2 linked regions of the Homo sapiens genome follow. The protein of the gene in region 1 interacts with the protein of each later gene in a pairwise test. Each region holds a gene or a part of one and is shown on either strand. Other genes may lie near its edges.

Region 1 (7,803 bases):
AGCCCGCCACACATAGATTGCTCTTCTCAGTTAAACCTTGGCCAATTGATTCCAGCCAATAGTGTGCTGTCAGTACTTTACTTACTGCTCAATCTCACTAACCTGACATTTATGGTGCACTGATTGGCCTCTGTCAGTGGTGCTGGTTGTAAATTCACTTTGAAAAGCTTTGTGTTAACAGCCTTCAACCAGGCTCCAAGAAGAGTACGAACAGGCAGCCTGACAATTGCTCGACCTCCTGCCCTTATTACAGTGAGTAAATCAGGGTTTGAGCCATTAGGCTGGAGCCTGGGGCCTACACAAAAAGGATTGACATGACGAAAGGTCAACCTCTGTCACACATGTGTAACAATTTGGATAATGGAATTCTGTAACTTATTTGAGTGAGGTGGCAAATGCTTACAAGGAAAAGTATATTCTGCTCTGGCTTCTCTGACTTTTATGCTAAGTACTTATACCGAAGTCTGTATTTCCTGTGTAAATATACAAGGAATGTCTGAACTAATGAAATCTTGGGGTATATACGATCCTAAAAAAGAATGAAAGAAAAAGAACGAAGGAGGCAGGCTCATAGTTGTTCTACATATAGGGTTCTTTAGAATAGCAAATGGTTTTTCCCATACTACCAGTGTATTAAATCCATCTTCTGAGACAAGAGGACTTTGATATTGTAGGCATATTCCCCAGCTGAGTAATGTGTAGTTTTTCATATTCAATCACAACAATTTTTAATCCATATTATACTACAACTGTAAGTGATTTCTGGGTAACACAATAGATATTCTCAAATTAAAACTGCTTTAATTTACACAGTGAAATAAGAAGATTCCCCTGCAGGCTTCTTGGGACCAGTGTTATGGTATGACATTTCCATCAGATCACTTGCTGCCAGGCAGTGACTGGGGAGGGCAGGTTTCATTTACCCACTAACCTCTGAGATACTGATTTCTCTTTTTATACCTTACTTTTAAGTCAGTGTGGGAAAAGAAAAAAAAATTACATGGTGTAAGAAAATATGCAGTTATGGACCAGTAAATATTTGTGAATTATTTTCTTCATATTGAGAAAATGCTATTGATAAAAGAAGCAATTTGTAAAAATAGATAAACTGAACTAATGAGAAAAATAATCCGGTGGATACAGAACTCATCAGTCTTTATAAAGTGTTTGCAGCTAAAGCACTGTAGTGTCACATGCATGTTGGGATTAAACCTCACTGATGTGAGAATGTCCAAATGGCTGTTATAATTTTTTTTTAAAGCAGAATTATTCTCGGACTTAGAAAACCAAGGGTGGCACTGTGCAGCATGATACATAAACCAAAAGGACCAGAACTTTAAATGGACATTTTCAAAGCAACTTAAAGTACTAAGTTTTGACTTTTAACACAATGCTGGAAACCATTCCAAGAGGTGGCAGATGGTTTTACAGTTTATGTAAAACTACAAAATGCTCACACTCTATCAAATAGGCACCACTATAAAAGACATCTTCAAATCAAATGAGGCAAAGCCAGAGAGATACACCAGCTGTTACTCTGCATAATTTAAAACATAATAGTAGCATTACTATGGTTTATTTTTAAGGAGAAATTATTTGAATTTCACAAATTTGACATATTCAAAACCAAACTGACAGGCAGACTATTATATTAAATGATAAATTGCTGAAAAACATGATTTTTACTTCAATATAACTGCGACAGCTACATAATTCTATCCCCTAGTGTCTTGGTGAATCACGCCAAAATGAGCCAAAGTCTATAAAGCAGAATATGGAATATATAATTACAGTACTATCACTGCGACAACTTTTAAGTGATTCTAATTTAATTGAAAATGATTAATTTAAAATAATTTTTTCAACATCTAAATACATATAAGTGGGTATAGTACTGTATATATGAAATTGAGTCATTTATAGAAACATACATAATATATTTAAAATATGAAATCAATTCATTTTCTTCTAGAACCAATTACCTATGATGGTTTTGAAATATAAACATTTAGCAATGTGTAATATATTTTTAATATTGGTTTTCATTAATATATTTTGACTTAAGCTAAGCAGTAATGATGAAAAATAGACCATTTGCTTAACAGCAAAACTCTTATTAAATCTAAAATATTATGGCACAAAACCAAATCACAAAAAGGCTCACATTATGTTATCCCCCTTGATTTTCTGAAGAAAAATAATGAAGGTTTCCACATAGTGCAAATGAAAACGAGACACTCAAATTTACTCAGGCAAAGAGAAGACAGGTTCTGTAAAATTAAAGCCCTTTCTAGTATCTTAACTGTATTACTAACAAGTCACTACATTATTTCAATTAGCAGGATAATTTTTCTAGGGTGAAAATAAGTGCAATTTATTTTGTCATTCTTGCTAAAATTTCTTGTCAAGTCAGGCACTGAGTTGAAAGGCCTGAGTAATTCTAGCCTATCTTAAACTGTAACCTTATTTTAAACTTCCGTATTTTATTCCAGTAGAATTTTAAGTATACACTGGGTACATTCCTCAGGTCCAGTCATATTAAATTCTGATGTTAAGCAGAAAGAGGAAACCGTGTGCAACTAGATTAATTTATCTCAAGAGAAAGGGGGCACATTAATAATTGAGATAATGTTTTCATAAATGTTGGAATCAAATGTGCCTTTTCACTTCTTTATTGGAAAACACATTAGGATAAAATTATCTCATTCTCATCAATAAGACCTAATTGCTGAGAAAGATTGTTTTCTTTGGAAAACATTGAGAAAGATTTTATTTCATATGATGTCCAAATAGCTAGAAATGTATCATGCATCCAAGTCTTGGAATAAATATATATAACCAAGGCAAGTCATTGTCTGATGCACCTTGTAATGTTTTGTTTTAAAGTATCTGAATTTATTATTGTTTAAAAAACACATTAAAATTCTGATTCTAAAAGAAACTAGCAAAAATAAATGACTAATTATTTGGCTTTTAGCTTGTAATCTTCTTAAACTATAAAAAATAAAAAATTACCTTGGCTTATTGCAAAAAAAGAAAAAACAACTCTCTTGGAATTTCCCATAAATACCCAGAAGAGTCAAAATGTACTGAATATAATGAAATGATATTTAACTTCCTTTAAATTGCTGTATTTTGAAGAACTATGATTATACACAAAGAAAATATTAACTAAAACAATGATTGCATGCTTACAAACCAAACAAGCTCTCCATGGCTGATGTATGTTAAATAACAAAAAGTCATTTTTCTACAAAGAAAATAGAGCTTCTAATGATTAAATAAAAGGAGTAACTAAGGTGAATCTGATTGTTTCTGTAATAAGCCTTCATGTGTATAATAAAGTACAACCATACTAAAAACAATGAAGTGTAAACTGAAACAAAAATCCATCATCTACTTGGAAATAGTGACAGGAAAAGATTAGCAATCCATTTATTGTACTGAAATAAAGATAAGTAACCCTGGTAAGATCCATCAGGACCTGAGTATTGAACTTGAAATAAAAAGACATTTCTTCATCAGCAAATGACTTGAAAAAATGTGAGGAAGAGAAATGATTACAGTTGCCTTTTAAAATAAAATAATCATGATTCAACTGCTTTTAATTTTTTTAATACATTTTGTTGACTTGCTATTCTGGAAGACATCTAAAAGAATAAGTTTTTGAAATGGATAATTATTACATGAGTCATTAAACAATTATTGCCAAACATTTCCGATAGACCTACAATGTATTCTACTTACTGATTCTAATGTGAATAATATGATGATTTTTTTAAATTTCAGAAGAAAATTTAGCTTTGAAAGAAAGAACTAAAATTTAAGGAACAATCTAACATTTGGAATATTGTATTATAAATGTAACAATTCAAACGGTCATGTTTCATAAAAATAAATCATAATGCTTAAAAATTTTAAACTCATATTCTATATCTTAAAAATCATTATGCTAATAAAAATCTGAAACCTATTTTATAAAGTAAGTATTTTATTTTACAAATGGATATTGGCACTAAGTTACCTGGCCCCAGTTAGTCGCATTTCACGTGATCTCCCAGGAGACTGACACATTTTGTATGGCTAAAGTTTTAAAATCCCTTCAATTCCCAAATGTACCTTATTCTAACTGTTGTTACAGATAATTAAAAAAAATAGATTATGTCCTGAATTTAGGAGTTGGATCCTGTAGATCATCCAAGCATACACCCAGCAAGTCTTTTTTCTAACAGAGAACCAACTCTAAGAACCATCCCAGCACACTCAACTCACATGCCCTGAACAATAGATAAAATTCACTTTATATCTACTGAAGTATCAAGAAAAAGAAAAACACTGACTAAATTCCCCAGTCTCTTTACTACAACAAAATTTTAACTTCATCAAGTACAAGTAAAGGTAGAAAAGAAAGGTTTCATAGTTTTCAGTGTTAATATGCATTGTTATAGTCTATATGTGTAGTGGCCTCCTGCCAACATCCCAATCATTCAAAGCCTTCTGGGGGGGAAAAAACCCACAATGAACTATGAGATTTTTGTTCATGTTTATGTCTTTGTCCCCTGGCACTCTAAAAATAGATAGGCATCAAAGGGCAATATAATAGTGTTCAGTTTTAACATTTTCAGGTAGAGTAAATTTGTACTATTGAACAATTGCTGTACGATTTTCTTAGAAAAATATTGGCAGACCTTTAACTATATGATATTAGAGTTCCTAATAACACTACTGGAACATGAGAAGTACCTAAAAGTGTTTTATAAACTTTAAACCACATTGGAGGTTACAATTAATTAGTCAGAAACAAAAACCAAAATGTTTCCAAACCAGATGCTTTGAGCCGGGGCACTCCAGCAGATAACTATAGGGTAGGTAGTTCATTGGCTTCCACGTCCTCATTTTGGGCTGCTGGGCTGTAGACTCATACACTCAGCTCCTCCTCCATCAAAAGAGGCTTTGCAGACACAGGCCTCAGGACCCCATCCCCAACAGTCACAGGAGGGTTCCGGATACCAGGTCTGTTTTTCATACTGTATCTCCATGGCCTAATATAGTGCTGGCCAGAGTGGGCACTCATCAAAAATTTGAGTGGATTAATGAGTCCCATGAGCTTTATTTAGTGAATATAAGGCAGCTCACAGTGAAAAAGATCATTTTGACAGGCCAGCAAGCCAAGTATGAGAGGCAATCTCTTGCAGAAACGATGCATTAATGGAGCCCAGGGGTTCATGTCAACCTGACCCCTGGCATTTAAGAAACTTTATTTTCTAGCTATTCCTACTTTATTATACCACTTGCCCAGTTAGTCAGATTTACATATTGTTTAAGGGTATGACTTCTGTCATCTTGTATTACATAAGCAACTTTCCATGGATGGAGGTGGCTAAGATTGGTAGGGGGATGACCTAATGATAGGCATCTATCTCTTCAGAAGTGAACCTCAATAATCCACCATGATGTTTTGGGAGAAACCTCAGGCTGACATTTTTCAAATAGGTTATTTTTAAATAATTGCTTCAGGTAAGATTGTGCCATTAAAGTATTACCCTCAATTGGGTTACACCAAAGTGCTCACACTGTTCCCATGTTTTGATTTTCCATATTGATGAAGATTACATAATTTCCGTTCATCAGAGAAGCAGCAGAATTTGCGATTTCTGATTCCCAATATAATTTGCTTAATTTGGGCCCTTTGATTCCCAATATAATTTGCTTACTTTGGGCCCTTTGAAAGTTGTGAAACATGTGATCTCTCACGTTCAACTTTGACAAAATTGTTTTTATCTGAGAAAAGGGGCCAGCCTCTCCTTCCTCCCCTCTATGCTTCTGTTCCTTTCTGCTCACTACACAGAAACACACTGGAAGTGCTTGGAATGGGACATAAAGGTCACCCAGCTCAAACATTCTAATGCCCACCCTCCGCTGCTCCATCTCCTCAGCTGTTTTCTCTTTTTCTCAAAATTCACAGAGACCAACGGTCAAATCCATTCCAGCTGGAATGGAGGCAGCTTAAGGTGACTCTGTCTTCAGACACCTGTAGGCTGTTTCCCTGGCTGGGTTGCTATTGTGTCAGTCCCAGCTCTGTCAGCCTCCTTACTGCAGGTGCTTCAGACACCAGGCATCTACAGGACCAGAGAAATCTATTCTCCGCTACCCTCTGGGGGCCAAGGGAGGCTCTCTTCGCAGTTGCCACAGCCAAAGGCCAGGCTCCCTGCCGGCCAAGGCTCCCTGCTGGCCAAGGCTCCTGCTCGGTGGGGAGGCGCTGTGCAGCCGGCCACTTACCTCCCAGAGATGCTGCGTGTTCCTCACGGCGCCTGCCTGCACCTTCTCTGGGGGCAGAAGCACGCCTTGGAAAGGTCCAATCCAGGTGCCTTGCTGGATCCTCTGCGCCGCGCAGATGCCGTAGGCCAGGCCGGGCACAGTACTGGTGCAGAGGCACACCTCGCGAGGCAGGTCCCGCAGCCACTCCGGCAGCTCCGGCGGGGGCGCGGCGGCCGCAGCGCTGCTGGTGCCCACAAGCCGGCGCAGCGAGTGCAGTGGCCCATGCATAGGGCACTCGCCGTTGCGGTTGTCCGCGCACATGTCGCAACCTGCGGGAGACAAGAAGGAGGAAGGGAAGGGAGCGGGTTAATCCGGCCGCCCCGAGCGGCCCATCTTTGAGTAAACTCCCGAGACAACAGCATCACCGCCCGCCTGGGTAAGCCACCTTCGAGGAAGGTGATGCCTTGGGGGCACCGAAGCAACTCAGAGGAGGAGGAGAAGAGAACCCGCGCCGCTCCCTTGGAATTCGCCGCACCCAGATCTGCCTGGTACCGGGCCAGGACTCTAGGCTCCCCAAAAAGCCTTCGGATCTGGGCGCAGATAGCATGTCCGCTCTCCACGGAACCGACAGTTCCAGGCTTCTTCCTCCCGTTTCAGTCTCTCTGCATCTCTCCCTCTGTCTCTGTCTCTCTCTCTCTCTTCCCTACTGTCTCTCGTTCCTTCTGACCCTCTCGCCCATTCCTGAGGTTTCTATCTGGAGTTTCAGGATGTGTTTATCCTTGTATTGCGAAAAAAAGCCCGTCTCTTGCCCAATCTGCTGTCTCGAAGAGATTCTATACTGGTCGTCTGGGTATTCAGCTTTCCTCTTTTTACAATTACACAGGAGACGATTTAAAATCACCAGACGGGGCGGGGTGGGGGAGACGGCCAGTCTATCGCGGGTGCCATTCGCACTTCCTTCGACCCAGAGACTCGGAGGCTTCCTCGACTGCCTCCCAAACGCCACGGGACGGGGCAGAGCAAGCCTGCAGCCCGGTAGAGCAGGAGCCGCAGCCCCAGGACTCCAAGGGCGCGCCCGAAATGGGGTCCCTCAAGCGACCAGTCAGTTCTCCCTCCAGGCACTGAAGCAGGGCGGGGACAGGTGGGGCGGGGTGGGGGACCGGGGTGCTGTTCTGGAGGGTTTGGTGTGCACGCTCTCCCTAGACGCCGGAAGAAAGGAATAGCAAATTTAACGATCAGCCTAATTGTTAGAGAAGGCACCAACTCCTGCCCCGACGGCTGTTCTCCAGGCTAAATGCGATTCTGTTGTGCTATACAATGGGTGAAGCTGTAGATAAAGCTGTCTCTCTCCGACACTCTCCAAAGCAGCCTGCGCGAGAGGGACCCCCACCCTCCGGGCCGGGCGGTAGTGGGCGCCCAGTATCCCTCCACTCGAACTGGGCTGGAAGGAGGCAGGCGGCCACGGGAAATAGAGCCTGTGGCGACTGCGCTGTCGGATCGCAGCGCCCTCCGGGTTATTAATGGGCCTGGAGGAGCCGCCGTGTC
Region 2 (7,803 bases), on another chromosome or scaffold:
GTTGTTGTTTTTGTTTGTTTGTTTGTTTGTTTTTTGAGACAGGGTCTTGGCTCTGTTACCCAGGCTGGAATACAGTGGTATGATCACAGCTCACTGAAGCCTCAACCTCCTGGGCTCAAACAGTCCTCCCACTTCAGCCTCCCAAGTAGCTGGGACAACAGGTGCACATCATCACATCTGGCTAATTTTTTTTTTTGGTATTGTTTATTTTTTGTTTCGCCATGTTGACCAAGCTGGTCTTGAACTTCCAGGCTCAAGCGATCCTCCCACCTTGGCCTCCCAAAGTGCTGGGATTACAAGTGTGAGCCACCACCCCCGGCCATAATCTCGTTTTCTTCAAGTCAGCTGTACCCTATAACATAAGCTCATCTCAGGAGAACTATATCTTCATACTCACAAGTTCCATCCATAACCACAGGGGAGGGACTACACAAGGGCAAGGGCCACGGGTCACCTTAGAATTCTGCCGGCCACACCAGCTTTTTGCAGGGAGTCCTATTCAGCTTTCCACCACAAATGAGCCTCAGGCTTCATCCCTAGTCCTGCTCAGGCTTAGAAAACCCCAGTACTAGTAGATGGACCTTTTTTCTAATATGCTTACGGGCCATTCAACCTCAGCTCCCGCTCACTTCTCTGGCTTTTAGTTCTCTCGTCATTTTCCATACCTGAGGTTTTCTTTTTCTTGCATTCAAGATTGGCATGCATTTAAAAATATTTGTGTTATATTATAACCAGTATGTTGAAGTATTTGGAATGATTGGGGTTTTGAATGATTTCTTCCCTCAGCGGCATGTCAGCAATATTTTCCAGATTTTTCATGTTTTAGAAATATGTACCAAGATTATACTCCAAATCCATCAAAATAAGTGAACTTTCAGAGTCCTACCCTCAGTAAAGTCATAGTTACCCTATAACTAAAGTTATAGGAAGAATTAGTGGTTGATCAACCTGAAAACTTACCAGTGTGTTCAGATGTGGGGCATAGTTTCTTCTTTTGCAGTAACTTTTCTTTATGTATCACCGGGAAAGCTAGATGTATGAAAATTAAAGAAAGTAAATTACGGTATCCTTCAAGACCTAAATCCTTTCTAATGAAACAGGCAGATTAATGGGCAAAGGACAGTCTTAACTGTTTTTTCTTGTCCCAATACCTCTTTCCAAATAGCTCAACACTGCTAACAGTATATTTATTCTGTTTCCATTTCAAATCTGTGAGCAGTTTTCAAAGTTATGATAAATGCTTTTCTTCAGATGTAGCTGAGCAGTATTTTCAAGAGAGCATGGCTCATCTTAAGGATTCTGAAGGGATGGGAAGAACCAAATTTCTTTCAATTCAAGATGAATTTTGCCATTTTCTACAAATGACTGGACAAAAAGAGGTAAGTGAGTTTGGATCACAATTGTCTAGTTATTCACAGTTGATATCCAAAGGGCAACTCCTTTACTCTGCAAGCATCCATTAAGCATCTACTGTGTGCAAAGCATGTGCCAGTCTCTAGAGGGACACATAAATAAGGCTAGGGCTCCTTTGGGGCAGCTTCCAGAGATACTTGCTCTTAGAAGCTGGGAGACTTTATGAGAATATAGATTGTCATGCCCACCTACAAAAGATCCTAAAGAAATAGTGGACAGGCCCTGCTTATTGAAGTCCTGCAGATCTGGCTGGAATAGTGTGGCAGTTAGTGTGTCTAATCCCTCTCTCCTCAGTTTGGGTAATGAATGGAGTTTGCATGTCTAAGGAAAACTATACGGTGCAGAAGTTACAGCTCAGTTGTTTAGTATTGATTCGTACAAGCGTGATTTACGTGGCTTATGAAAATAGAGCAAGACCCAGACCTTATATTCATTGGGAATTAAACCCTTGGGAATGCATTCCCTGCAAAGCCTAACATACCATTGCTTTATGTTTTTATATATGTGTGTGTGTGTACATATTAATACATATATATATATACAATCGCCCACAGATAGGAACAATTATATATATGTGTGTGCATATATATGTATATATGTATGTGTGCATGTATGCCCACACCCTCTTCTCAGCGCACCTAAGTCCTGTTTACTTTTCACTCCTCTCCGTTAAGTTTTTTTTTTTTTTTTTTTGAGACAGAGTCTTGCTCTGTCACCCAAGCTGGAGTGCAGTGGTGCAATCTCAGCTCACTGCAACCTCCGCCTCCTGGGTTCAAGCAATTTTCTGCCTCAGCCCCCCGAGTAGCTGGGATTACAGGCCCCCGCCACCATGCCCAGCTAATTTTTTTGTATTTTTAGTAGAGTTGGGGTTTCACCATTTGGCTAGGCTGATCTTGAACTCCTGACCCCGTGATCCGCCCGCCTCAGCCTCCCAAAGTGCTGGGATTACAGGCGTGAGCCACTGCGCCCGGCCTCTGTTAAGCTTTTCTTATCAGAGGTTAACGCCATCTCAATTTCCTAGAAAACCATACATACATACATATATACACACTCACACACATATATATATAGTTGTTCCTCAGTATCTGTGGGGGATTGGTTCCAGAGCCCCCAAGGATATCAAACTCCAAGGATGCTCAAGCCCTTGTACAAAATGGTGTCACATTTGTATATAACCTAGACAAAGCCTCCTGAATACTTTATATCATCTCTAGATTGCTTATAATACCTAATACAATGTAAATGCTATGGTAGTAGTTGTTACACTGTATTTTTTATTTGTATTGTTTTTATTGTTGTATTGTTATTTTTATTGTTTTTTCCCATATAATTTTTGATCTATGGATATGGAGGGCTGACTATGTATTTTTTTCAACTCTAACCTATCATGGCAAATCTTGGAAATGAAAAACTTTATTTCCCTTACCGTCTGTAGACCTCCTCCCCCACAGCTCTTTTCTCATCCTTAATCCCCCCTCCACCCCCGCCTTCTGTCAGCTAGGGAACACGGGCTTTTATGCCGATATACCTATGTTTCTCAGGCCAAAGTAGGGCCACAATCACCAGGACAAATTGGAGTTTCAGGATGTTTCTCAGTCACCCAACCCCAGGGAGAGAGAGGGGCCTTCCAGGGGCCTCAGACTCCCTCCCCATTCCCCCCTCACATCTCTAGAAGACAAGGGGAGTGCTCAGGTCAGAATAATGGGGTAGGTTTGCCCCCTCATGCCCCACTCCATCTAGTTCCTCAGCCATTTTTTCCTCCAAAATAGATCTTGAATGCATCCATTGTTTTCCATCTTTAGTCCTGCCACTCATCATCTCTTGCCTGGACCGCTCTAACAAGTTCCTATCTCTCAGCTGCTTTTTCCATGCTTGCCCTCTTCTAATCCACTCAGAATAAGGAAGCCATGGTGATGTTTCCAAAAAGCAGATCTGACCACTGAACACTCACTTGTAAAAGCCAGTCCACTGGCTCCCCGATGCCCTCAGGATAAACCAGAATCCTGACATGGCCCACAGTACCGTCCACGACCTGGACTCCACTGACATTTCCAGGCTCATTTTTGCCTCCTCTCCCTGATCCATGTTCCTGCCACACTGGCCTTTTCTAATTCCCACTTCCGGGCAGTGCCAGCTTCTGTTTCCTCCTCCTGGAAGGCCCTTCCTCATTCATCTCCAGGCCAATGCTAACCCATTCTTCATTTCTTACCAGCTTCTCTGATTCCTCTCCCCAGGCTTCATTAGATACTCCCCATTATTCTTCCTTAGAGAATCCATTTGATGTCATCAAATATTTGTAAGTATATATTCATGTGGATATTTAACATCTATCTTGCAACTAGACCGAACCTGTGAAAGCAGAGACCCTCTTGCCTGTGGTGAGGAGTGATGAGCAGAGAGGTGGATGCATGTTTGGCCACAGGCCAGCTGACTGTTCTGACTCCTGTGGGCCATGCATCAGTTCCCCTGTACTGCCTGGCTTCCCACCATAGTGTCTTGCTGAGTCAGCCAATGCTCAGTGTCACTGATGCTATGCCTCACTGCCCTTGCCCAAGTCACCCAGATCAGTGTTGATCAAAAGATGCACCTCACTCTCCTAAGCTGCCCTCGAAGATTTTAGCAAACTGGCTCTTTTCATTCTAGGGCCACTGCCAGCCCATCCAATGCCCTTATCATAATAGAAAAAGCTGCCCCTTCCTCAGGTAGATACCGCCCATGTTGGAGAGGACCATAGGCTGGATTTCAGCCCTCCCCATGCTCCTGCCAGGCACCCTTGTGTGTGGCACCACCTGCCCAGCCAAACATGGCAGTCTCATGCTGTTCTCACCATTTGGTTGCAAACCTCTCACTGTGGGTTCTAGCAGGTGTTGGCCAACAAGGGCCGGGCCCAGGGACAGTCCCGGAGCCAAGAATGGGGCTGTGCTCAGGCCATCCCAGGTGTTCCCACAGCACATGGCCATGGGCACTGTGGAACATGATATTTGAGGGATGAAATGCCTTTTAAGGTAAAATGTAAGTGAAGGTCACTCTGCCACAGGTTAAGCTACTCCGTGAGGGTTTGTCTTCTAGTTGTGCCACTCTTTTGCTCAAGAATCTTCTGTGACTTCCTCAGCCTGGCCACTCACTGGCCCTCAACAGGCCATGTGTTCCTCCTGTGCTCCCAGTGGCCCATACCCTCTTCTCATCCCACCTAAGTCCTCTTTACTCTTCACTCCTCTCTCTTAAGCTTTTCCTAGCAGAGGTTGATACTATCTCAGTTTCCTAGAAACCCGTGCCATTTAACTTCCTTCACATCTCCCCGTTTCCGCAGTCAGGCTGTAGGCGGCATCCAAAGCTTTATCTGGGAAAGGGAGTCTCCCCGGGTCTTCTCCCCATCACTGGCTCCTCTAAGTCTGACAGTGATATTTTCCCACAGAAATATCACCAAACCCAGCACTCTCAGCAGTCCAAGTCCTTGCTCTCAGAACTTGGGAGATGTGATGGGCTTTACCCTCAGGCAAGTCTAGATTTAAATTCTAGTCCCTCATGTACCTCAGTGGGGCCTCACTGCTGAGTTACACAATCACTCTGCCTCTACAGAGATTCCTCTTTCACCTGAGAAATTTATTTCTGCCTCATCAGCACCTGTAATGTGGTTCCCCTACCCCGGCCCTATCCCCTAACTTGTATTATTGCCAACAAAAGGATTAAACGCCCTCCTTGTCCTTCTGTTTGTGGAGCACTTTTGGGACCCCTTTGGGGCTGTGTCATGAGGAAGCTCCCATGGTCCCTGCTGTATTTGCCAGTTAAATTCAGCATCCATGCTCTGCAGCTGATGTCGTGCCTTCATGTGGAAGATCGTGGAAGAATTTCTGGAGAAAGTATGGAGGATTGACATACTTTAACAGGGTTTCCCCCTGCATATTTTGGTGTCTGAAGAAGCTAATATCAGGAAATACTATGTCCTGACCAATTCATAATTTTTATTCCATGTTAGTATAAATAAATTGGATAAACCAAACAAAATGTCATGTCATGTTGGAATGTTTACTTTCAGTTTCCTAAACGATTTCCTATGAGAATAGCCAAGCCTGGAGTGTGTTCAGGATGTTCTATACATAGATAATTTGCCCAGGAATGCTATATTTTCACTTCTGTAAGAATAGCATTGTGGACAGAGGGAGAAAAGCATGGGACTAAAATGTATGAAAATTAGACTGGGCATTGTGGCTCGCGCCTGTAATCCCAGCACTTTGGGATGCCAAGGTGGGTGGATCACTTGAGGTCAGGAGTTCAAGACCAGTCTGGCCAACATGGTGAAACCCTGTCTCTACTAAAAATACAAAAATTAGCTGGGTATGGTGGTGGGCGCCTGCAATCCCAGCTACTTGGGAGGATGAGGCAGGAGAATCGCTTGAACCTGGGAGGCAGAGGTTGCAGAGAGCTGAGATCATGCCACTGCACTCCAGGCTGGTAGACAAAGAGAGACTCTGTCTAAAAAAAAAAAAAAAAAAACCTCCAGATTTCCACCTGCTGTTGTAAAATGGAAGATCTGCTGAGACGGTGAGACGGATTTAAAAAAAAAAAAAAAAAAAGGTATGAAGATCACTGGCTGGATTCAGATCCTAGCACCACCACAGCTGAGCCCTCTGACTCTGAGCAAGTTTCTTAACTGCCGTGCCTGTTTCCTCCTCTGCCTAATGAGGATTAAAATTTTACCCATCTAAAGAAGACAGCAAAAATTAAATGAGACCCACACAATTGTGTGTGTTCAGCACAATTAGTGACATGTGAGGACTGATCCATGTCAGCTTTTGTTCTTACTACTCAACTGAAATGGATTCCTGTAATGGCTGAGTGGGTTTATTTTGCCAGGTGTCCTCTCTCTTCATAGTTTACACCTTTCCTCACATTCGTGTTGTTTCCTGACTCTTGTTCAACCAGAGGTGATATGATTTGGCTGTGTCCCCACCCAAATCTCGTCTTGAATTATAGTTCCTATAATACCCATGTGTCATGGTAGGGACCCTGTGGGAGGTGATTGAACCATGGGTGCGGTTACCCCCATGCCGTTCTTGCGATAGTGACTGAATTCTCACAAGATCTGATGGTTTTATAAGGGGCTTTGCCCCCTTTGCTCAGCACTTATCTCTCCTGCTGCCCTATGAAAGAGGTGCCCTCTGCCATGATTGTAAGTTTTCTGAGGCCTCCCCACCCATGTGGAACTGTGAGTCAATTAAACTTCTTGGCTTTATAAATTACCCAGTCTCAGGTATCTCTTCATAGCAGCATGAGAATGGACTAATACAAGAGGAGAACAGGCTCAGCTCGTGAGACTACCACACCCATGTGAAAATGTTACAAGTTGCGTAATGATCCTAATCAGCCTTTGAGCTTGTTAACCAGATAGCTTTTTGTTCCTTTCACAGAGAGCAACCTCGATCCTGAGAGAGTCCCTGGAAGCCAAAGTGGAAGCATTTGGCGATTTCAGTCCCGAGGTGGCAGAGACATACCGGCTCCTGGGAGGAGCAGACCTGGCGCAGGGGAACCACAGTGGGGCCCGCAAGAAACTGAAGAAGGTAAAGCTGGAACCAGTACTAACACGAGACTAGGCTCTCCCTCCCCTCTCCAAGGTCAATTTCTCTCCCTTGTGGTGGTTCTTTTAAATGAAACTTTAGAAGTGGCTTGTTTAGATAGGATGACATCACTTTTGTGGTAGATCTAACCTGATACTTTTTGGGTAAAAGACATAGTAAGCCTCTTAGACATACATATTTTTTAAATGAATTATCAGTTTTTACTATGCAAATATTTTTAATTTTTTACGTAGTACAATTGATCAGTCCTTTATGTTTGCGGTGCTCTCTCTATACTGAGTTTATAGAGGAATTCTCTTACACTTTCTTCAATTGTCATTCTTCTTTAAATTTGGAGTTTATTTGTGTGGATGGCATGAGGAATGGATCTAATCTTACCTTTTTTCCAAATGGCCACCCAGTTGTCCAGCACCATTTAATTAGAGAGCCCATCTATGCTCCAGTGACTTCAGATAACACCTTCATCATATACTGATTTTCCTTATGGACTTAAGTCTATTTCTAGATTTCTCTTCTCTTCCACTAGTCTTTCTGTTTATTCATGTGTCAATATTTCAGTTTTAATTACAGAGATTTTATAGAATGATTTAATATGTGATAGGAGTAGACACCCCTTATGGCTTTTCTTTTACTAGAATATCAGGTGTTCTAGCTATTCTTCCGTGTTTATTTTTCTACATGAATTTTTGTATCAATTTGTCTAACTCCATAAAGAGCTTACTAGTATTTTTATTGCATTATTTATAAATAAATCTTGTGAGAATTGACAACTTTGTGATATTGAGTTTTTCTATCCAAGAACAAGGGATATCTT

Evidence for each region.
Region 2: the proteins of PRDM6 (region 1) and TTC23 interact in binary tests that used the Homo sapiens proteins (3 or more experiments, as listed by UniProt).

The regions. Positions count from the first base shown.
Region 1 is NC_000005.10:123,098,438-123,106,240, reverse strand, and holds part of PRDM6 (putative histone-lysine N-methyltransferase PRDM6), read right to left. Parts: intron 7,015-7,803; exon of another isoform or gene 6,704-7,014; intron 6,588-6,703; coding exon 6,280-6,587; intron 1-6,279. UniProt on the Homo sapiens protein: Putative histone methyltransferase that acts as a transcriptional repressor of smooth muscle gene expression.
Region 2 is NC_000015.10:99,155,316-99,163,118, reverse strand, and holds part of TTC23 (tetratricopeptide repeat protein 23), read left to right. Parts: intron 1-1,251; coding exon 1,252-1,379; intron 1,380-6,821; coding exon 6,822-6,971; intron 6,972-7,803. UniProt on the Homo sapiens protein: Participates positively in the ciliary Hedgehog (Hh) signaling.